Regions from separate parts of the Homo sapiens genome. Here region 1 is linked to region 2. Evidence: fine-mapped expression QTL. Tissue or cell type: whole blood. Region 2 holds a variant in brackets; the other region holds the start of a gene. All regions are shown on one strand. Distances are from middle to middle.

Evidence for each region. PIP is the estimated chance that this variant, and not a neighbour inherited with it, causes the effect.
Region 1: HDAC7 starts here. The variant in region 2 is fine-mapped to the expression of HDAC7 in whole blood (INTERVAL, PIP 0.94).

The regions. Positions count from the first base shown.
Region 1 is chr12:47,815,262-47,823,362 of GRCh38, reverse strand. HDAC7 (histone deacetylase 7) reads left to right here and starts at 3,460. Exons shown (of 26, transcript NM_015401.5): 1 at 3,460-3,596. The coding sequence starts at 3,578. RefSeq lists enhancers at 1,698-2,619, 3,958-4,531, 5,249-5,909, 6,156-6,265 and silencers at 3,170-3,509, 3,650-3,729, 3,740-4,049.
Region 2 is chr12:47,780,317-47,788,417 of GRCh38, reverse strand. SLC48A1 (solute carrier family 48 member 1) reads right to left here. Exons shown (of 3, transcript NM_017842.3): 3 at 5,667-8,101. HDAC7 (histone deacetylase 7) reads left to right here. Exons shown (of 26, transcript NM_015401.5): 20 at 254-373; 21 at 609-706; 22 at 1,715-1,833; 23 at 2,533-2,666; 24 at 2,947-3,031; 25 at 4,201-4,339; 26 at 4,532-5,696. The coding sequence ends at 4,577. Among named protein-coding and RNA genes, the nearest start is that of SLC48A1, 11 kb to the right of the region's middle. The variant T/C (reference allele first, on the strand shown) is at 4,007.

The sequences.
Region 1 (8,101 bases), 35 kb before region 2:
AGTGTCCACTGAGATCTCACTGAACTGAGGCCTTGGGGAAGGAGCACTTTCTGGTTGGCTTTGTGCGAAGTGTGTGAGGATAAGTGCAGGCTGGCGGAGGAATTGTGGCTATGGCCCCCACATCTAGAAGGTTGGGAACGGAGGGTATCAGAAAGTTTGGATAATTTTCTGGGGCTTTAAATCCTGGCACAAAGTAGGCACCCAATAATATTTGTTGAATGAATGAATGGCCCTGTCACTTACTAGTTGTGCAACTTTGATCAGGTTTCTTAACCATAAAGGCCATGCTTTACTCATGAGCATAACAAGGATTATTGTTAAGAATAAATGATCTAATGTTTGTCCAGGGGATAGCAAGGACTGCTACGCAGTAAATGGTAAACAGTAGCTAACTAAGGAAAGAAGGAGAGGAAAAGGAGAAGAGAAGGTCAAGTAGGCCCAGAGTCCCAAAGGGAAGCAGATTGGGGTGCCCTCAGGCTTTGTGCTGGCCGGAGACTCTAGGGAAGGCTCAGGAAGCCAAGGCACGTCTTTTGGGGCCAGTCTCTTCTGCTAGGTGTTCAGCTGAGAAAGCTATGAGAGGCCTGGACTCAAGAGCTTTTTAAAAAAAGGCTCCCCACGGTAACCAGGCTAGAAGAGAGAGAGGTAGCTTGCATTTCTCTGTCTCATGTCTCTAAGGTTCTTGGAGGCTTTCTAATTTATCCTGGTAGGGGACATGTGACTTAGAAACTGGCTTAGGACTCTGCCATGAGGCGGGGTCTGGTAAGTAAATCTGGCAGGGGAAGGAGAGACACAGTCCAGCTTTCCCAGATGCAGGTTGCACATGCTGTCTTTTTCTCTGACTATATGTTGGAGGCAGTGAGTCCTGGTGTGTAGAAAGCCACATGTTGGGCACTGTGTGGACAGACAGGCAGGGAGATAGCCTCTTAATTCAGATCACTCAAAACTCAGTGATGAGTTTAAAAAGAGAAAGAAGACTCACAAATAAATGTATGCACAATGCACATGGTAGAAATGAGCATAAAAGGGCCTGGCTTTACTACAGAAATAGCTACAGAAAAGCTACGGATATGTGTGTGTTGGGGGTTGGGATCAATTGTGGAGCTAGACAAGGGAGATAGCAGGCATGTCGCTGGGGGTCTGCAGTAACCAAGCAGTTTTTCTGGAGTCTGTGGACACCAAAGAGGCATTTGGAAGGAGGATGATCTGGCTTGGAATTGAGGGCTGGGGATGACATACCTAAGGTGGAACAGCATGTGTCTTGGAGAGTCAGCATGGGTAGTTATGGGGTGAAAGAATGTACTGTAGGTGTCCAGCTGGAGAAGGGTTCTTGAAAGTCATGAACATCTGTCCCAATTCAACAAATAACTCACATCAAGTTTGAATTCTGTGCAAGACACTACAAGAAATGCACCCATGACCAAGGCAGTAGCTGGACTCAGGGATATCCACTCTTGAATGCTCTTGGAAGGAAGAGAGTTGAGACAAGTAGACTAGGTGGGCGAAGGTCAATGTATAAAGACCACACAGTTCAGGGAAGAATTCCTCTTGGCTATGGGAATCCGGGAAAGCCTCCCGGAGAAAGTGGTATGCCACTTTCTTTTTCTTCCAGTCCTTCCTTCCTTCCTTCCTTCCTTCCCTCCCTCCCTCCCTCCCACTAGATAGGGAGTGGGTCTTGAGGATTGGAAAGATTTCAACAGAAGGAGAAAGGGGCTGGGAGGACATTTCTTTTGGAGGCAGCATGATGAGCGAAGGCAAGGGAGTGTGGAAGCGTGAGGACAGGATGGGAAGCAGCTAGCAGCCCAGTCTGGCAGAAATAATGATAGTAATAATAGTGACTAACACTACTGAGCCCTAAGTACCAGGAGGCACTGGGCAGGGATGTGTATGGAGTGTGGTGCCAGGTTGTAGGAGGACTTGAATGCCAGGAAAGGCTTTTGGGAGGGTAAGTTAACAAGCGCAGAGGGGTTGGATCTGCCTGCCGAAGGAGAACTGGGACAAGGAAAGGGGCTGAAGTAAGAAGTCCCACGCTGAATATGCCGGTAGCAACAGATAGTGAGTCCCGAGCTGTGCCTGAGGGAAGGGAATAGAATCTATGGTTTGAAGTTCACCGCCAGCATGGCCAAGCCCTCCTAGGCCACTGTGGGCTCTTGCTTCCAATCAGACATGACTCCACCTCTGGGGCTGCCTCAATTTTTCCTTCTCTGGATTCTTGGGGTTTCTTAGGATTGCGGGAGATAGAATGGGGTCAGGGGAAGCTGCTCCTTGGTTTACAATGGTGGCGCCTCACGCTGCAGAGAGCCCAGTGTTCCTGCGTGGTGGACCTCTCCCCTTCCTAGGAGCAGCTCCAGATTGCTGGAGGCAGACACGGCTGACCGGCTAGCCCAGGAAGCACAATGGCGAGGTCCTTAGCCCCTGACCCCTGAATCTGACCTTCTCTCCAGCTAAAAGCGGAGGGAGAGGCAGGGAGGGCCACTGCCTAAAGCCGGCCCTGAGCTGAGTTTATTAGCTGAGGGAGGGCTGGAGGCGGCTGCATTCCGACTCACAGACTGGAACATTTCTGTGATCCGCTGTAATGCACTGGGGGACACTGGGCACATTGCTGAAGTTTGACTCATAGGGACCGGGAGGGGGAAAGAGGGGGGTTGTGGAGGGAGAGGAATGGGAGGAAGAGAGGAAGAGGAGAGGAGGGAAGGAAGTCCCTTGAGAAATTTCTTTAAAAAAAGAAAACTTTCAAAATCTGCACCACCCCCACACCCTTTTTCTTTTAATAGGAACAGGCTGGACCCTTCCGTTCCCCTCAGCAGGCATGGTGTGTGTGTGGGGGTGCCAGTGGGGGAGGGCTGGGCAGTGATTCAAATCAGATCCTGGAACTTTCCTGAGGCAAGTCGTGCTTATGTGTGTGTGTGTGTGGTGGGGGGTGTCCGTCTGGGATTCCTTGTATGGGACATGGGACACCACGCGTGTCCCACTGTGCCCGCGTGTGGCTGCGTGCTTGTGGGCTGTACGGGTATGTAGTGTGTGCACGGGGGTCCACCCCGAAGCCCCAGTGTGTGCTGTGTAAATGATTCTGCCCCTTGTAAACATGGATGCGTGCTCGTGTACGTTGTGTATGCGAGGGTGCGTGCGCCCAGGTAGCTGGGTTTCCGGGAATTGTGCACGGCTCGGAGCGCCTCGCGGCGGCTGGGGCTCGGAGCCGCGGCCGGCGTTCCGGGTTCGGCGCTGCCTCCCCGGCAGTGCGCCGCGCCCCGCCGCGATCTGGCCGCGCGCGGTGTCTGCGGCCCGCCTGTGCGCCGCGCGGTGCAGTGTCTGCCGGGGTGGTGTGTCCCAGGGCCGCGAGCGCCTGCCCCCTCCCTCCCCTCCCCCTTGGCCCGCTCTCAGACTCAGATAAAGCATTTCCTTCCATTGTCATCCTACCCGGCCGGCCGGGCTGCCAGGGCCCTCCCCCTCCCGGCCCCCTCCCTTCCTCTCGCCGTCTCACAGTCGCTCTGCAGCCTCCGGCGACTGGGGGGATGTGAGGCCGGCGCCCCAGCCCCCCGCCCCGCCATGAGCCCCCCGCTCTGAGGGCCCCGGCCCCTGGATGCACAGCCCCGGCGCTGGTGAGTACTGGGCGGCCGCCCCCCGCCCCGCCCTGCGCGCGGCACCCAGCGTCGCCCGCCCAGGCTCGGCCTCCGGCCCTGGCCCCGGCTCCGGCTCCGGCTCCGGCTCGGGCTCCCGCCAGCCCCGCGGGCCCAGCCCGGCTTGCGCCCCCCGACCGCGCCTGTCCCGCCCGGCTCCGCGGGGCTCTGGCAGGCTCCGGGTCGGAGCTGGTTCCGGGGGCCGGAGGGCTCGGGCCTCCCGCGGGGCGCCCACATCCGCCCGCCCCGGGGCAGCTACAGGCCCAAGGGAGGGAGTTGGAGGCCCCGGCCGCCGGTGTGCGGGCCCCACGTCCCATCACCCCTGTTCCCGGGGAGGACGAGCCGAGGGACCGGGGAGGGAGGGACGGCCGCGGTGGCCCGGCGAGGGGGCGGTGCTCCGGGGCGGAAGGTTTGGAAGCGCGAGGGCAAAGGGCAGGACCCACTGAGTTGGGGCTGGGCTTTGTGGGGCTGGACATCAGCGCCCCCATCCCGTGGAGCCGGGCAGGGCCCTACTCAGATCCTTCGGCGGGGAAAGAGGTCCCTTGGAGGGGTCTCTGGCTGGGAGGTTTCTCTGAGCATTGCCCCCCATCCTTGCTCACCCATCAGGGTGAAGAGACACCTGTGCCCTGGTGAGCTGTGGAGGTCAATGCCGGCAGCGGCGCGGGAAGCGGGGCGCCGCAGGCTGTGTGAGGGGTGGGGGACAGGATGTGCACCCCCCAGGCCTGGGGTCTGTTGGTGTTGGGGAGTGTGAGAGCAGGCGGCAAATTTGGCGGATGGGCTGGGTTCCCACGACCAGAGTTTCTAGGCCTGTGGGCCAGGAGAGAGCCCTCTGGGGCCCGCAGGCCACCCAGTGCCCCACCCCCATTGCTTCCCGCTGTGGCTGCCCGTTTGGGTCTGACCTCCCCAGCCACGGCTGCTCCTCACTCCTTCTCCCCGCTGGCTGTCTTGCGCACCCAAAGGCCTCCCCCTGCATCTGGACACTGGCTGTCTCGCTGCCAACGCTCCCTGCCCACTCCCCTAGGCAACATCTGCCTGAGGCCCAGCTCTGCCTGCCGCTTTCTAGGGTGAGAATGGGGCATCGGCCCTCAGCGGCCCTGCTGGGAGCTCAAGATCAACTTCTCAGCCTGTTCCCTGGACTTGCATCTGGACCTGTGGGACCTTCCTCAGGACCCCTATTCAGCTATAGGGCTGGCAGGAGACTGTGACTCAGGTCCCTGCCCTCCAATGAGACGCTTTGGCGGCCCTTTCCCCCTCCCAGGACTCCATAGGCTGCTAGGCTGCCGCTACCCATGGGTTATTAAGTCATTTTCTTCTTCTCTGCAGTCATTTCTGAGGGAAACTAAGGCACAGAGTAGTCCCAGTGAGTGGTACCCAGCCCAGTGAACCTAGACTGGAACCAGGTCTTGGACCTATTGGGACTGGTCCTCTGCCTTTAGTCCCCTGATGTCCCTCCTTGCCCAGCAGGGCCAGGCTCAGAGGCAAGCTCAGAGCTGCCTCCTGATGTTGCACCTGGAATGGTCCTGGTGCAGTGTTCTCCAGAGGCCTCTGTGTCCCTTATTCGGCGGGTGTCTCTGTGGCCACCGGGTCTTACAGTGGGTTTTGGGGCAGGGAAGTTTGCATGTCTAAGCTGTTCACTCCACTTTGACACTGAAGTTCAGTTTCCCCATCAGTAAAATGGGGAGAAAATTCCAAGCACACTTCTCAGAGCAGAGCAGAAGAGGTTGACTATGGAGAGGAGAATGAAGGTACTGTGCTATTATCCACCCCCTCCAGTTTGCTTAGGGATAATGGACCTCAGCTTTAGTCCTTGGTGGCCTCTTGGCATGGAAGCTGGAACTTTCTCAATTCTGATATAAAACCCTTGAGCAAGAGAGAAACTCATGTGTGATGGGGTAGGGAGTGGGGACCCTCTGGTAGCTGTGGGCAAGCATGCCCAAGGACTTGGAAGACAGAAGCCTGTGGAACCCCATCTCCTCTTTGCCTTCTTTCTCCTGGCCTTTCATTAAGGGCTGGTAATTTTGAAGTCGGCAGGGGCCTGAGAGAAGGTGAGCTAATGCAAGGCCCAGGGTCACACAGCCAGGGAATGGCAGGCGGAGGGGGCCAGAACCAGGCCTTCTCACTCTGCCAGTGCCCATTCTGCTGGCCCACCCTCCACAGCTTGGCTCTCCCTGGCCTGCCCTCAGTTAGACTTCGGACTGAGGCCTCCAGTGGGGTGTGGGGTATTGCTGGAAGCAGGGCCTGAATAAAGTCTGGGGCTAGCGGGAGGGCATCTGTCCTCCCGGAGGCTCCCAGGACTGTGCATTTGTGTGTGTTGGATTTGTTCACTAGATGGGGCACTTCCTTTGGGGCAGGAAGCTTTGATTTCCTGTGGTGATGGTGAGGAGGGGTTGGTAAGGATTAGGAGTGGGGGGCTCAGCTCTGGGCCATCCTCGATGTTGTTGTTTGGAACCACGGAGGGGCAGAGTTTCTGCTTAAGACTGCTTCTCCCAGCTCTGGGGAGGCAGGAAGGAGAGCCTTGGTGAGGAGGCCCAGGCCAAGGCTGGAGAAGGAGGCTGTGAGAGCAGTGAGCTGGGGGTGGGCAACACAGCAGGAAGCCCGGTCAGCAGGTGACCCTGCCGGGTATTGTGTTTCCTTGTAATATTTTCCCCCTGTTTCTGTGGTAACCTTCCCTGGAGGCCCCAGGCCTTAGGGCTACAGGAAGGTGCCCCCAGACAGCCCTTTCCTTAGAGGCCTGAGTATTAGGAGGAGTCCCCAGATCTAGCCACCTCCCTAACCCTTTTGGCTCCCTAGGATCAGGGGCCTGGGAATCTAGGCGAGTGGCCTGAGTGAGCATGGACTCGCGGGCTGGGGGAAGGCCCTTTGGCGTCTTCTGGGGGGAAGGGAGAGGGAAAGAGGGGAGCTGGACGCCCGGAAGGGCCCTGAGCAACTTGAGTCGCTGGCCTAGCCTCTTGTTTCCTCCCAACCCATCCCCACTGCCCTCCTCCAGTCTCCCTCCTCCTACAAGGGAGAGGTGGGTAGCATGCTGCCTGGGGCAAGGGGCAGGGGTGGGGGTGGCAGAGGTGGGAGGGATGTTTTCATCAGCAGAGCATAGCTCCTTTGGTCCTGGACCAGTTCCCAGAGGCAAAATAAATTCAGGACAGCGTCTGTTTAGTGTGGGTCTGCATGAGATGTGTGTGAGCACACACTGGGTGCGTGGTGGGTATCTGTGTGTGTACCCCTCCCCCCAGACCCTGTGTATGCTGATGTGGTGGTTCCGGGCAATTTGTGATCTATGTGGTGGTTCTGTGTTGGGTGTTTTGGGAATATGCACACATAAAAGACAGATGTGCATCATCTGTATGGTGCACACCTTTTCAGGTTATGGCCCTGTGTGGGGTAAACATGTCCATATGTATGGACATGTTTTTTGGGGGTATATATCTGGGCAGGAGTGGCTTTTTAATAGAAGTCCAGATGCTGGCTTGTAAAACACCATCTCATTTGGGATTCTCAAATGCGGGTTCCTGGACCATTTGCTTCAGAGTCACCTGGGGAATGTGTTAAAGATAAAGATCCTGGGCCGGGCGCGGTGACTTACGCCTGTAATCCCAGCACTTTGGGAGGCCGAGGCAGGTGGATCACCTGAGGTCAGGAGTTCAAGACCAGCCTGGCCAATGCGGCGAAACCCTGTCTCTACTAAAAATACAAAAAATTAGCCAGGTGTGGCGTGCGCGCCTGTAATCCCAGCTACTCGGGAGGCTGAGGCAGGAGAATTGCTTAAACCCGGGAGGCAGAGGTTGCGGTGAGCCAAGATCACGCCATTGCACTCCAGCCTGGGTGACAGCAAGACTCTGTAAAAAAAAAAAAAAAAAAAAATCCTGGCTGGACGCGGTGGCTTTGGGAGGCTGAAACAGGCAGATCACTTGAAGGCAGGAGTTCGAGACGAGCCTGGCTAACAGGGCAAAACCCCATCTCTACTAAAAATACAAATTTAGCCAGGCATGGTGGCGCAGGCCTGTAGTCCCAGCTATTTGGGAGGCTGAGGCAGAAGAATTGCTTGAGCCCAGGAGGTGGAGGTTGCAGTGAGCCGAGATTGCGCCACCTCACTCCAGCCTGGGCAATAGAGTGAGACTGTCTCAAAATTAAAAACATTCAGATCATCAGGCCCATTCCAGATTGACTAGTCAGAATCTGAGGGGTGGGGCCTGGGAATCCAGATTTTAACAGGTGCTTCAGGTGATCCTGGGGCAAGGCTGTGTTTGAGGACCACTGCCCTGGGTCAACCTCTTCATTTTTTCTTTTGAGGAAATAGACCCACAGAAGGTATGTAGTTTCTCTAAGGTGACAGGGCCATTAAGAGGAAGAACCAAGAGAAAACTCAAGGCTTCTAAGACCTGTCCAGGACTTTGTGCTCACCCATGTACCCCCTGTGTGTGTGTGTGCATGTGTGCTCATAACTACACTTTGTGATGACGTGGACCCGATTGGGCTGGTGCTAATTGGGGCTG
Region 2 (8,101 bases):
CTGAGATTGGGACACCTCCTCTCCTTCAGGATCTCATATTACAGCCAGCCCTGTCCAGCACAGAGAGGCCGAGGTTCAGAGCCGGGCAGTGGATTACGTGGGGCCACTCGACCGTGTGGCTTTAGGAACCCCAGGTTCCTGATCCCAGTCTAGGGTCCTGACCTCAGAATGGCCACTGACCTTGAAACCCTTCTAACCTGTCCTGGCCCCCATCTCTCTGCCTTCCCTAATCGCTGCCCGTCTCCCTACACAGGACGTGCACCATGGCAACGGCACCCAGCAAACCTTCTACCAAGACCCCAGTGTGCTCTACATCTCCCTGCATCGCCATGACGACGGCAACTTCTTCCCGGGGAGTGGGGCTGTGGATGAGGTAACCGCATGTCAGGGCCACATCTTCCAGCCTCATTGACCTCCTCCTGACACTTACTCTGCCTCTGTCATGACGAGCTGTGTGATCCTGGGCAGACTGCTGAGCCTCTCTGATCCTAAACTTCCCCACCTGGAAATGGGGAGGCTGGATGAGCTGGGCTGGCAGCTCTAACAAACTGGTGTTCCCCTTCTGGGACTCTGCTGTCCTCATGTCTCTCTTGCCTCCTGTTTTCCAGGTAGGGGCTGGCAGCGGTGAGGGCTTCAATGTCAATGTGGCCTGGGCTGGAGGTCTGGACCCCCCCATGGGGGATCCTGAGTACCTGGCTGCTTTCAGGTACGTGCTCTGGGGGCCCAGAGGGGCAAGTCCACCCTCTCCTGTCCCTTCTCCCAAGAGCACCAGGGGGGAGGTGATCAGTTGGATTGTCAGCCTGTCCCCACCAGTTCCTAGACATTGTAGGTGAACGCCAGTGAGAATAGGACAAACAGAGAGAAGAATGCAAAAGTCAAAGGGTGCTTTGCAAAGGCATACATTACCGAGAGCCAATGTCAAACTGATTGCTGGCAGGTGGGTGGTGGAGTGAGCAGAGCTGGCACATTTAGTCAGAGAAGGCTGCCACTCTATTTGGGAAAAGAGAATTCTGGAAATGGATCTTCAAACACTTTTCTGGAGTTATCTCCATGACAGCTAATTCTACGAGAGCCCTGGGCTGGAGTTCCTGGAGTCTTCTCAGAGCCCAGGGCTATGAAGAACACCCAAGCAGGCCCCAGAGTTGGATCAGGGGTAGAGGAAGGCAGCTGGGGGGGGGCCTGGAAGAGGGAGAGGATGAGAGAATGTAGCCAGGTGGCGCAGAACCTCAGAGGACCTAGTTGTCCCCTACTCAGCTCTCAAGTAGTGAGTAGCTGGGTGTGGTCAACTCAGTCCAAAGGACTGAGCACTTGTAGTCCCTGAAGCTTTGTGACCAGAGTCCATCTCCGCAAGGCTGTGAGATTACCCTTTCCCTGTGGCTCCGGCCACTGCACCCCACAGATGCTTGCATGCACACACACACATGCACACACACATGGTCACACACACTCCTCTTTCATTCCCTCTGGTGCTCCATCCTTGGCTCCTTTCTGCCTCTTGCTAGTTAAGTCCCCTAGGGGGCTGAGTCCTTAGGCTGTGTGTGCCAGGGACATGGGTGGCCAGCCAAGGTCAAGGAGGTCAGAGAAATCTGCCAGTTGTGCTGGGGCACTGGGAGCCTTGGAGTCCTAAGAACAGGGTGCCCCACCGCAAAGTTGGCAGGACCGCCCCTGGCAACCCTGCACAGTACGATGATCGCCACTTCTTGTGACCTCACAGGATAGTCGTGATGCCCATCGCCCGAGAGTTCTCTCCAGACCTAGTCCTGGTGTCTGCTGGATTTGATGCTGCTGAGGGTCACCCGGCCCCACTGGGTGGCTACCATGTTTCTGCCAAATGTAAGGGAGCCTCAGCTGAGGGGGACGTTAGGGACAGAGAGCCAGGCGGTGCGGGGAGTTGGGAGGCACTCCCAAGTCAGAAAGGGAAGGTGGCAGTGGCCAGCCCAGGGCTTTCAGCCTGAGGACTGGAGTATGGCAGCTGGTCCTGAAATTCCCCGGGATCTCCTAGCCGAGCACAGCCCAAGCCCTTTCTCAGGACCAGGCCGGTTCACCACGGAGGGCTTGACCAGGTCATACCCATGGGGACTTAAGTCCAGTAGGCAGGAAGCTCAGCCGTGGGACTCCCCACCACAGCTGGGTTGATTCCAGGTGGGCTGGCAGCTCCTCCAGAGGAAGGGGAGAGAGAAGCAGCACTCTCAGAATAGAGGGTGGCCACAGGGCCCAGAGTACAGAAAGAAGAGAGGGTGTAGCTCAGTGAAAAAGACACAGGCTAGAGTCAATGACCCAAGTTCAGGTCCTACCTTGCTGCCACTTACTAGCTGTGGGGCCTTTCCCAAGGCCCTTAACCTCCCTGAGCCTTGAGTGAAGCATACTAGTAGGTTTTGTACGACATTCAATGTGAAAGCACTTTGGAAATAGTGATTGATACATGTGAGTCATTCTTTATTAGGGAGGAAGCAAGCAGGGAAGCCACAGGGGTAGAGAACAGGGTCACCTCTCCACTCCCGCCCCTCCCATTTCTCCCCTCCCAACCTCTAGGTTTTGGATACATGACGCAGCAACTGATGAACCTGGCAGGAGGCGCAGTGGTGCTGGCCTTGGAGGGTGGCCATGACCTCACAGCCATCTGTGACGCCTCTGAGGCCTGTGTGGCTGCTCTTCTGGGTAACAGGGTGAGCCGTCTCCCTCCCCCATCCATGCTTCTGTCAGGCAGGTAAGCCCGGCTCTCAGGACTACCCAAGGAGCAGGCAGATGGGATGGGACAGGGTGGGAGTGGCCAAGCCTGAAACAAGGTAGGCGAAGCGGAAGCCTCTGTTCCAAGTTAGGTCCAGGCAGCATCTCCTGGCCTAGGTAGAGTGTGCTTGTGGCTAGAAGGCTGGGGCCCCTGGGGTGGGAGTGAGCTGGGCCTGTGGGTCCCTGAGAGACTGGTGGCTGATGTACTGTTTTCTATAGGTGGATCCCCTTTCAGAAGAAGGCTGGAAACAGAAACCCAACCTCAATGCCATCCGCTCTCTGGAGGCCGTGATCCGGGTGCACAGTAAGTGTGGAGATGGGACACTCGCTGAGCTCAGACTGAAGGATCTTGGTGGTACCCTGCCCCACCGTGGCCAGATCCTAGGGCTTCCGGTGCCAGCCAGGTGACCTGCTGTTGGTCTGGAGTAAGATTCCTGTGAGTGACCCAGGCAGCAATGGTGAGCACCCCCCAGTGAGGGGTTATCCTCTGAGCCCCCCCGATGGAGCCAGCAGGGCCTACCAGACAGTGGCCCCTCAAGGTAGGGACTGGCCTCCATCTCTAGCGACAGCCCTAGACCAGGGCCAGGTCAAGAGCAACACTCAGGCCTTGTTTGCCAAAAGGCCTGGTTCCCATCCCTCCCCTCAGTCCTGGCCACAGGCGTCTCAGGAGCTCTGCTGGCTTGGGGGCTGCGTCTTGGGATAACCCCCACATTTGTAAAGTACTTTAAATTTTCAACTTCAACTCAACATCTATTGAGCATCTTATGTCAAGACCCATAATCTATACTAGGGATAAAAATGAGTAAAATAGATTCCCATATCAAGGGCTGGGTAGGGGAGCCGTGATGTCTTTACATAATGGTAAAGACATGGCTGATTCCTCTTACGGTGGGTGCCCTCACACTGAGCCAGATTCCAGGACATGGTTCCTCACAGCAGCAGGCAGGAGGAGCATTCTCCTGGCCTGGGCACCCATGCAGAGCGGCCGTGGTGATGGTCAGTTCTCCCATGTTGTGTTCGTCCCACCTCCCAGGCCCTCCTTTCCTGAGTGCTGGGCTGAGCACTGGTGGGGGCTGTGTTTAAGTGGGAGGCCCGAGCTTGGGGCTCTGGGAGGTCACTGTGACACAGACCCTGTCTGCAGGCAAGCAGGCTCTCCTGATGCTCTCAGGAGCCCCGCACCTGTGGGGAATGAGTCAAAGGTGGCCTTGCAGCCACAGGGGATGAGAGAAAGGCTGGGCACCTGCTAGGACTCCCTCACAGCCATGTTGAACCCACTCTG[T/C]GTACCCTGTCAGGCTGTGCGGGAGTGGGAGCGAAGTGAGGAGAGGGGCAGGTGGGAGAGCCGACCCTAAGTGGAGGACAGGCCCGCTCCTCCGGGGCCCTGGGCCTGAGACACCAACCTCAATATCCGGTCTAGGACGCAGTGTGGAGGGGCTTGCTTTCTCCAACCCTTTCTGACCTGGCATCTTACCCCAGGTAAATACTGGGGCTGCATGCAGCGCCTGGCCTCCTGTCCAGACTCCTGGGTGCCTAGAGTGCCAGGGGCTGACAAAGAAGAAGTGGAGGCAGTGACCGCACTGGCGTCCCTCTCTGTGGGCATCCTGGCTGAAGATAGGTAATGCCAGACCCCTGGCCCTGGGCCCACAGCCTCTCCACCGCTTCATTCCTCCCTGCTTGAAGACCCCGGGTCCGCTATGCAGCCACCCCAACCCTCCCAGGCTTCCTGACCAGGGTTGAGAGGAAGCTTAGCTAAGGCCCTTGCTGCAGCCCTGGTGCTCCAGCATCCCACCCTTGTCCCTCCCCACAGGCCCTCGGAGCAGCTGGTGGAGGAGGAAGAACCTATGAATCTCTAAGGCTCTGGAACCATCTGCCCGCCCACCATGCCCTTGGGACCTGGTTCTCTTCTAACCCCTGGCAATAGCCCCCATTCCTGGGTCTTTAGAGATCCTGTGGGCAAGTAGTTGGAACCAGAGAACAGCCTGCCTGCTTTGACAGTTATCCCAGGGAGCGTGAGAAAATCCCTGGGTCTAGAATGGGAACTGGAGAGGACCCTGAGAGGAGACGGGCTGGGCGGCGACCCCCACAGGGCTCTCGAGAACAGATTCTCCCCTCCAGTATGGGCCCTGGCTGTGGCCCCCATTCCTCAGGACTGCACAGAGGAGGACTGGCTCCGGCTCCGTCGGGCTCACCCTTAACCACTATTCCTGGCTCTGCAAACCCCAGACTTTGCACACAGCCTCAGGCTCCACACAGAAATGTGAACTTGGCCTCAGACAGGCTGGCCCTTCCTAGGCTCTAGGGGCTAGGGGGGAGTGGGGAGCCAAGAGGTCCCATATTCCTGAGTGCAGGGGTAGTCCCTCTCACCTGCTTCCTCAGACGACTCTGGAAGCTTCCCTCTACCACTGGGCACTGAGACGAAGCTCCCTGACAGCCGAGACTGGCAGCCCTCCATCTGGTCCGTACCCTCGCCAGAGGCCCCCCTACATCAACCTCCTGGCGATGCCCTGGTGGAGCAGATGGGTGCTCTGGGAGTCCTGTGCTTCCTGATCCAATGGTGCCAAACCCTTCATCTCCCCAAGAAGCGCAGCATACCCCTGGGACCCCTCGGCCACTGCCCACTCGGGGAGCCTTCTCTGTTTCTGGGGCCTCCCCCACCATAGCTCTGATTCCCACCCCACATAGGAGTAGCCTGACTGAGGGGGAAGGGGTGGGAGAGAAGATACAGACATGGAGGAGGGGAGGCTGCTCTGGCAAAGTCTTCAAGGCTTTTGGGGGTCCAGGCCTGGGGTCAAGAAGGAAAATGTGTGTGAGCATGTGTGTGAGTGAGGCGTGTGTGTGAGCGTGTGTGTGAGTGAGGCGTGTGTGTGTGTCTTTCCTAGGACCCACCATACCCTGTGTATGTATGCATGTTTTTGTAAAAAGGAAGAAAATGGAAAAAAATCTGAACAATAAATGTTTTATTTGCTTTAAAAGTGCCTCTGAAAGGGCCCCCCAGAAGTGAGCAGTGCGCCGTCAAGCGGGTGTGCAGGGCACACAGCTGCACGGCACAGTGTGGGTCTGAGTCACTGCCGGAGGAGGGACCAGGGTGGTCTGGGCCGCAGCCCCTTTAACAATCTGCCCTTCCTGCCCTGCAGGAAGAACCCATTCTGAACACACCCTGGCTGTCCCTGGCTGCCCCACTTTGGGGTGACAAAGAGGAGGCAGCCCTGGGCTGAGTCCACAGAGACCAGCCCTGATATGGCAGGAGTGGGGGTGGGGTGGGGGAGTGGGAATACAGGAGCTCAGCCCCAGCTCACCACGGCATCCCCGAAGAGTTGTGACTCAGACACACCTGGGTTTAAGTCCCAGCTGGGAGCTCAGGTAAGTCAAATCGTCTTCTGGGGCCTCTGTTTATCAGTAGAAGGCTCCAGAAGTATACACTGTTGATGGCTCCTTCCCGCTCTGATGCACCATGCCTGATTAAGCATACACTGAGCCTAGAAGAGAGAAGGGGTGAGGCACAGGCCTGGACAAGCTCACCCAGCCTAAGCAGAGAGGAAGGCGCCAGGCTGGCAGCACCTGCCTTTGTGGTTCTGAGTCTGTCCGGTTTTTCCAGCAGGAAGAGGAGCACCTCATTACCTTAGACCTGGCCCAAGCTCCTGGCAGCCTGGCAGAGTGTGAGGGAAGAGGCGCTAATCCCTTTCCCATCTGGCCTGGCCTCTCGGGTGTGGACACCAAATCCCGCAGGGGTTGCTGTAGCTATGCCCGTGGGCATCCTTGCCCTGGCTGGGGTGTGCTAGAGAGAGGAAAGCTGGAGGAGGAGAGCTGAGCTGGTGGTTACCCCATGCCAGGAGGGCCAAGGCAAGAGGGCCTGCAGCCCCAGAGATACTGACTCTGTCCCCTGCCCTCCAGGGCACAACTGAACTAGCGGAATGGCTTAATCAGATAGCTCGAGAACTGCCACTACCACTCCCTCCCTGCCCACTCCTCCCAAAGTCCACCTGTTCCCGCAAGAGTCCCACCTCACAAGCAACCACCAGAGGCTGATACAAATGGCCGCTGTATTTTTGCTAAAGTGACAGTGACACAGATAAGGCAAAGAGCTGAGGGGCAGGACACATCAGATGGGAAGGGGGAGACCGTGCAAAATGGCAGTCTAACAGAAAATCATCCTTGTACCAACAGCCCCTTCCCTCCCAAGTTAGGTGAGCCCTTGGGCCAGTGTATGGGCAGAAAAGCAGATTTGTGTCCTTCAGAAGGGAAATGTAAAAAGGTGAAAGCTCTAGTTGAAGGGCAGTGAGAGGGGCTGGAGTGGGAGAGAAGGTCTCTCCTGGCCGGTGGTCTGGGTGCAGCAAGGGCACTCTGAGAAGGCAGAATGGAAACGCAGGGCTGGAGGGGCATGGGTACAGGTTTGGGGGCTCTTTCCAGCCTCTACTATGTTGCCCCCTTCCCCAAAGCCCTTACAGGGGCAGAAGCACATTCCCCGTGACCCTGAGTCTGGCCTCATTTGGGAAGTCTTCTGGGGTGTATGGATGCCTGTGTGTGTGAGTGAGATGGGTGGGGGGCCACGGCTATCTGGCTCTAGCACACTCATGGGAGACCAGCTCTGGGAACAACAGGATGGGGTGCTGGGATGGGGGTTTAAGAGGTCTCTGCTAGATATTTCTGAACTGACCTCCCCAGGTGCCCAACCTGGCCTTGGGAAGAGAGTGCCTAGGGCAGCGGGGATGGAAACCCTTGCCTGCAGCATAGGTCCAGGCCTCATGGCCCTACACCTTGACCTCTTGACTTTGTTGCCCTGGCCTTAAGTACAAAGATTCCTCACTGCGTGCTAAGAAAACAGATCCAGGCCGGGCACGGTGGCTCACACCTATAATCCCAGCACTTTGGAAGGCTGAGGCGGGTGAATCACCTGAGATCAGGAGTTCGAGACCAGCCTGGCCAACATGGCAAAACCCTGTCTCTACTAAAAACACAAAAATTTGCCGGGCATGGTGGCAGATGCCTGTAATCCCAGCTACTTGAGAGGCCAAGGCAGGAGAATTGCTTGAACCTGGGAGGCGGAGGTTGCAGTGAGCTGAGATCGCACTACTGCACTCCAGCCTGGGTGACAGAGTAAGACTCCATCTCAAAAAAAAAAAAAAAAGAAAAAAAAAAGAAAGAAAAGAAAACAGATTCATTTGAAAAGGTCTAAAGCTGCCCTCTGGCCAGGCTGATGAGGAGCAACATGGCAGGATCCCCTCTCTACCACACTCAGGTTTCCTCGAAAGGGGACGGGCAGGACAGCTTCCTGGGAGACCACACTCGTCCTGCTGTGTATTTTCTGCCACAGTTCTGGGGTCACCAGGGGGTGGGAGTAGCCTCTCCCAACATCTCAGAGGCTGAGTCCAGGTCCTAA